2 linked regions of the Homo sapiens genome follow. The protein of the gene in region 1 interacts with the protein of each later gene in a biochemical or structural test. Each region holds a gene or a part of one and is shown on either strand. Other genes may lie near its edges.

What was found.
Region 2: the proteins of CLCN1 (region 1) and FKBP8 form a complex in vitro, tested with the Homo sapiens proteins (one study listed by BioGRID).

What each region holds. Positions count from the first base shown.
Region 1 is NC_000007.14:143,347,111-143,350,166, reverse strand, and holds part of CLCN1 (chloride channel protein 1), read right to left. Parts: intron 1-3,056. UniProt on the Homo sapiens protein: Voltage-gated chloride channel involved in skeletal muscle excitability.
Region 2 is NC_000019.10:18,536,899-18,540,718, reverse strand, and holds part of FKBP8 (peptidyl-prolyl cis-trans isomerase FKBP8), read left to right. Parts: intron 1-998; coding exon 999-1,168; intron 1,169-1,259; coding exon 1,260-1,348; intron 1,349-2,282; coding exon 2,283-2,503; intron 2,504-2,945; coding exon 2,946-3,118; intron 3,119-3,820. UniProt on the Homo sapiens protein: Constitutively inactive PPiase, which becomes active when bound to calmodulin and calcium. Seems to act as a chaperone for BCL2, targets it to the mitochondria and modulates its phosphorylation state.

The sequences.
Region 1 (3,056 bases):
TACCCTGCAACCCCCAGGTACCCAGAACACCCCTCCCTCTTCTAGGCTCCAACTCTCCTATCCCCTGGCGTCCCAAACATTTGTTATTCCCAACCTATCTTTCCCATCTATTTTCCACTACTACTATAAGACGTGGGGCTCCAATCAAACCAGACTGCTTTCTGCTCTTCAAACATGCCTTCCCCTTTGTCTTTGCTATTCTGACCATCTGGAGTTCCTTTACCTGCCCTACCCTCTCCCTGCAGTGTACGTATTTCCTGACTCTCCCAATCAGATGTGCTTCTCCCCTTTTTTATTCCCATAGTATTAGCTGGTCTCACCTTTTCAGAAATGACATTGGCCATACTTCCTGCTGTATTGGCATCTGTCTTACCTCTGCATTTGTCTTGAGTGTTATGTGGTATCGGCTGCTGTATATTGTGAAGAAACTAGCACATCACCTCTCATGCAGGGAACTGTAGTGGGTACTTGTTGAAATTGAAGAGCTATACTGGACCTCATGGCACTTAGCTGACTTGAGCAAAGCCAGTTTTTGTTTGTTTGTTTTTGTCTATGACAGAAGCATTAAGGCACAAAGGCCAACCATCCTCTTGACTTTAGATACGCACACCAAAATTCCCAAGAGTCCAAATAATCCATTACATCTCTGGCTCTCTTACATTTTTCTAAAATTTCTAAAATCTCTTTTCAGTCAGTATCCTCTGAATGATCTAGAACTCTATTTTCCTATTTGTCCAAATCTACACCTCTCAAACTTCAGAGAATATCACCAAAGGGCATTATATAGGTTTAGGATCTGGTGTGTAGCCCGTAGTGATGCTCACTCCACCTGTCCTGTCCTGATATTTCTGGATTACAATCATGACTCCTCTATACTCTCATCTTCCGGACTAATGGATTACAGAGGTTACATAGCATAGGATGGATGACCACTTAGCAGGTGTGTTGTAGAGAAGATTTAGGTATAGGACGGGGGCTAGACCTTGCCAACCATGGTTTGGTCCATCCCGTCCTCTTGGTCTTTTCTATGATCATCTGTGGCCTTATGTTCCGTTTTTGCCTTTCCTTAACAATAACGCGGCAACATTTTCAGTGAATGATTATCAAGTACATCCTCTTTGCCAAGCATTATTCTAATTGACTTACCCGTCTTAGCTCATTTAATCTTCTCTAATAACTCTATCATTATCTTCACTTTATAGATGAGGAAACAGAGGCACAGCATGTTGAAGTCATTTGCCCAGGATTACACAGTCAGTAATTGGTGGAGCTGGGCTTCTAACCTTGACTGCTGTTTGTATTCCAGGTACATCTCCAGCTTTTGCGCAAGGGATGCAGGACGTTGCTGTTGAGGCTGGTGTGTTCCACTACTTGAATAAGCTCGGTACCGGTTAGAAACAGAGCTCTGTGTGTACTCCAGAGTATGCAGAATTAAACAAATCCTAGTAGGGACTTCTGGCAACATATAATTGAATCTTTCAATATTCCCATACTGCCCCCATACTGTTTTTTTGGTCAATATCAACATCTTGATATTGTCAAGGGTATCATCTGGTCTGAAAATTGTGTTCAAAACATCCTGAATTTCAACTCCTGTTAGATCTTATCCCTCTAAAATGTCTCAGTGGGTCACATGGGAGTTGGTAGCTCCTTAAAGTCTTCCCTGGGAAAGACATAAGCTAGAAATGATAGTCTATCTTATTTTTAATCCCTGGCTTCACTTTATTTCCAGTGGTCATTCAATAGCCACACTGATCAACTAGCTGGTTTTCTCTCTTTGGTGCATTAAATTAAAAAAAAGAAAAAAAGCAAAACTTATTGTTATTGGTTTTAGCAACCTAACAAAGTACTCCTTAACTGCAATTATGGCCTTTCTGATTCCTGCTTGTGGGCAGAAGGAATAGTTCTTCCTTTCCCTCTGTGATCATCGATTTGACTTTTTCACAAGTCATTTATCAGAAGTGTGTGTGTTTTGAGGGGGTGGGGAAGGTTTCTCTTCTGTCTTGTCACTCACAACATCCTCCTCCAATCCTGTAATGCTTTTCATTGTCAGCACATATTTATTCTGGATATCCAATAAGATGTTCATTTAAAAATAATATCTGCCGTGTTTTTTTTGTCAGCTTCATACTTTACAAGCTTTACGTTTTCGGCGTTTGCAGCAAACTCTGCATTCTTTTACCATATGGAATAGTTGCCAATGGATTTTTCTGTTGATGTTCCTCCACAACCCCTCGGTATGTTCTGATACCGCCTGCTTCCAATCACTAGTCCACATTCTGTTCCCTCCTGACAACCAAGCACATTCAGAATGCTTGATTTTTCTCTCTTGAAGATTTGATAACCACCTCGTTTAGGAAAATAGGCATTTGTTTGTCCCCAGGAGGCACCGTGGTCATTATTTTCTTCCTTTTTCAGTTCTTCCCAGTAGCAATGCCTAGCATTTTCCAGTTGTTCACTGTCTCAGGGCCCTGATCAATCCAGCACAGTAATCTCCACCAGGAGCAGATTTCTCCATTTTAGTTTTTTTTTTTTTTTTTTTTTTTGAGGCAAAGTCTGGATCTGTCACCCAGGCTGGAGTGCAGTGGTGCAGTCTCTGCTCACTGCAACCCCCACCTCCCGGGTTCAAGTGATTTTCGTGCCTCAGCCTCCCAAATATCTGGGATTACAGGTGCGTGCCACCATGCCCGGCTTATTTTTGTATTTTTAGTAGAAATGGAGTTTCACCACGTTGGCCAGGCTGGTCTCAAACTCCTGACCTCAGGTGATCTGCCTGCCTTGGCCTCCCAAAGTGCTGGAATTACAGGCATGAGCCACCATGCCCGGCCTCCCATTTTAGTTTTGATGTTCTTCTTCTATGTTGCTGTTTTAGTGCCAGCCTCCTGGTGCCATTTTACCTCCATTAAAGCTTTGCCTGATCCAGAAAGCCCATAATCTCTAAAAGATCTGGGGCTCATCTTAGCACCATGGCCCCATTTACTCATGGAGGCTCAAAGTTTTTCTCTTCTGAAATGACGTGTCCTTCTGAGAACACCTCCATGTCCCATCACACACTC
Region 2 (3,820 bases), on another chromosome or scaffold:
TGTATTTTTAGTAGAGACAGGGTTTCACCACATTGGCCAGGCTGGTCTCGAACTCCTGACCTCAGGTGATCCACCTGCCTTGGCCTCCTAAAGTGCTGAGATTACAGGTGTGAGCCAGCACACCTGGCCCCTAATTTTTGTATTTTTAGTGGAGACAGGGTCTCACCATGTTGACCAGGCTGGTCTCAAACTCCTAACCTCAAGTGATCCTCCTGCCTCAGCCTTCCAAAGTGCTGGGGTTACAGGTGTGAGCCACCATGCCTGGTCATTTTTTATTTTTTGTAGAGATGGGGTCTCACTATGTTGCCCAGGCTGGTCTCAAACTCCTGGGTTTAAACAGTCCTCTCATTTCAGCCTCCCAAAGTTCTGGGATTACAGGCATGAGCCACCATGTGTGTCCTTTGCTTAACTTATAAATTCATCCCACTTGGTGCTGTGGTGGGGACACTGTGTCACAGGGGCTCTGCTAACCAAAGGTCCCATGAGCACCTCATTTCATGGCTGGGTAAACCGAGGCCCAAACATCTCAGGGCAAGGATTTCAGCCTGAGGGCTGTTTGTCCTCTCTGAGCTTTGGTTTTCTTTCTTTTTGAGGAGGGTGGGGAGACTGGGTTCTTGCCATTTTGCCCAGACGCTGGGCTGAACTTGTGATTCTCCCACATTGGCCTCTCAAATAGATGGAAACTCGGCAAGTCTCAGTTTTCTTAAAAAAAAAAAACAAAAAAACAAAAAAACCAGACCAACCATTGTTCACTGAGCTGGTCTCTAGCACCAGCACTGTCACCCTGAAGTCTGTCCCATCCTGCCCAGTGTCCTGCACGTGGGGTTCCCCACTCTGGTGGCAGAGTGGCCATTGGAAGTTTGGTTTGTGCCCCAGTGTTGGGCCAGCCCCCTCTGGACAGCTAGTGGGCAGAGCTGAGGGTAGGAGTGGGGGCTCAGGGGAGCGGGTGCCTGTTTGAGCTGCCAGGTGACAGGCTGCATGTCCCTGGACCCTGGCAGGGAACGGGCTGTTGAGGAAGAAGACGCTGGTCCCAGGGCCGCCAGGTTCGAGCCGCCCGGTCAAGGGCCAGGTGGTCACCGTACATCTGCAGACGTCGCTGGAGAATGGCACACGGGTGCAGGAGGAGCCGGAGCTGGTGTTCACTCTGGGTGACTGTGACGTCATCCAGGTGCGGGCTGGGGCGGGACAGGGCAGGGGCGAGGGGCGTGCCTTGCTGGGTCTGAGTCTGCCTGACAGCTGGCTATCCCCACACACCCCAGGCCCTGGATCTCAGTGTCCCACTCATGGACGTGGGGGAGACGGCCATGGTCACTGCTGACTCCAAGTACTGCTACGGCCCCCAAGGCAGGTGAGAGTCAGCCACCCTTAGGTCTCTGCAGGTCTCAGGAGGGGGATGGGTGGAGTGGGTGTACCCCTCGGCTCACCCCATCTACTTGCCCATTTTATAGACAAGAAACTGAGGCTGGGTGAGGTGGCTCACACCTGAAATCCCAGCACTTTGGGAGGTTGAGGTAGGAGGATTGCTTGAGACCTGGAGTTCCAGACCAGCCTAAGCAATATAGACCGCATCTCTATACAAAAAAATTTAAAAATTAGCTGGGTGTGGGCCGGGCGTGGTGGCTTACGCCTGTAATCCCAGCACTTTGGGAGGCCAAGGCGGGTGGATCATGAGGTCAGGAGATCAAGGCCATCCTGGCTAGCACGGTGAAACCCCGTCTCTACTAAAAATACAAAAAATTAGCCAGGCGTGGTGGTGGGTGCCTGTAGTCCCAGCTACTCTGGAGGTTGAGGCAGGAAAATGGCGTGAACCCGGGAGGCGGAGCTTGCAGTGAACCGAGATTGCACCACTGCACTCCAGCCTGGGCAAGAGAGCAAGACTGTCTCAAAAAAAAAAAAAAAAAAAAAAAAAAGCTGGGTGTGGTGCACACCTGTAGTCCCAGCTACTGAGGAGGCTCAGGCAGGAGGATCACTTGAGCCCACGTTTTTGAGGCTGCAGTGAGCCAAGATTGCACCACTGCACTCCAGCCCGGGCAACAGAGTGAGAACCTGTCTCTTAATAAAAAGGAGGAAAACCGAGGCTTAGGGAGGGGAACTCGTTCGTCAAGTCCCGCAGCTCCAAGGCGGCAAGTCACTTCCCCTGCACTTTACTGAGGAGGGAATGATGGAGGGCAGAGGGGAGACAGATCGGGGGCTTGAGCCAAGCTCACTCCTTCCTAGCCAGCCCAGCGGGTTTAGGGGTCACCAGGTCTGAGTGCTGCCCCTGCCTGCTCCCACCCAACTAGCAGGAGCCCATACATCCCCCCGCACGCGGCCCTGTGCCTGGAGGTGACCCTGAAGACGGCTGTGGACGGGCCTGACCTGGAGATGCTCACGGGGCAGGAGCGCGTGGCCCTGGCCAACCGGAAGCGGGAGTGCGGCAACGCCCACTACCAGCGGGCGGACTTCGTCCTGGCCGCCAACTCCTACGACCTCGCCATCAAGGCTATCACCTCCAGCGCCAAAGGTGACCGCCTGGGTCAGATCTCCACCATCTCCCCTGCAAAGGTGTCCACTCCGTGCCAGAAACTTCCAGCCCCAGAGAGCCTCAGACTCAGAATATTCTAGAATAGCCCAGAATATGGGTAGATCCCCAACTGCCCCTAAGCTAGGGCCTGTTACAGACTCGTGGTATATCCCAGACCAGTGGAGTGTTGTAGAATGCAAGTGGATATGGGGATGGGGTGACCATAGACAGGGCCAGTTCACATGTACCACAGGCTAGGCCCTCGCTTGCTTAAGTCTCCATCTTGTAGCTTCCTCAGGAGAGCCCCAGGAAAGCGTGGCCCTTGGTCCGGGGTTAAAATTGGGGAAACTGAGGCCAGAGAGGCAGCCTCCGCAGAGGGGTGGGTGCCGGGGTGTCTGGTGGCATGGTGACGGCTGCCGTGGCGGGCACTGTCTCCCAATAGTGGACATGACGTTCGAGGAGGAGGCACAGCTCCTGCAGTTGAAGGTGAAGTGTCTGAACAACCTGGCGGCCTCGCAGCTGAAGCTCGACCACTACCGCGCAGCCCTGCGCTCCTGCAGCCTTGTGCTGGAGCACCAGCCAGACAACATCAAGGCTCTCTTCCGCAAGGGCAAGGTAGGCCACACCGGGGTGCCAGGCCGGGTCACTCAGCCTGGGGTATACGGGGTGGTCCCCAACCCTGCATTTGAGAAAGGCATAGGTATATAAGCCAGCTGAGCTCTGTGGGGTGCAGGTGGAGAAACTGAGGCCCAGACGGGTGCAGGAGTGTGGCCTGGTCACAACAATTCATTGGCTGAGGCCAGAATTTGATCCTCGAGTCTTGGGTCCCCAACCTTTGGCCCAGTGTTTTTTGTTTGTTTGTTTGTTTGTTTCTTGAGACAGAGTCTCACTCTGTCACCCAGGCTGGAGTGCAGTGGTGTGATCTCAGCTCACCACCGCAACCTCCTCCTCCTGGGTTCAAGCGATTGTCCTGCCTCAACCTCCCAAGTAGCTGGGACTACAGGTGCGAGCCACCACACCCAGTTAATTTTTGTATTTTTAGTAGAGATGTGGTTAGCCATATTGGCCAGGCTGGTCTCGAACTCCTGACCTCAAGTGATCTGCCCGCCTCAGTCTCCCCATGTGCTGAGATTACAGGCCTGAGCCACCGTGCCCGGCTTGGCCCAGTGTTGAAACCTCCTCCCATAGAACCTCCATGGGTCCCAGTTTTCCTCAGAGTAAAGTGGAATCCTAGTCACAGCCCTTGGGGCCTTGAGTTGTCTGGTCTTCCCCCTCCTGCTATCACTTCTCCCACCTCACTTTCTGCTTCTCTCCATC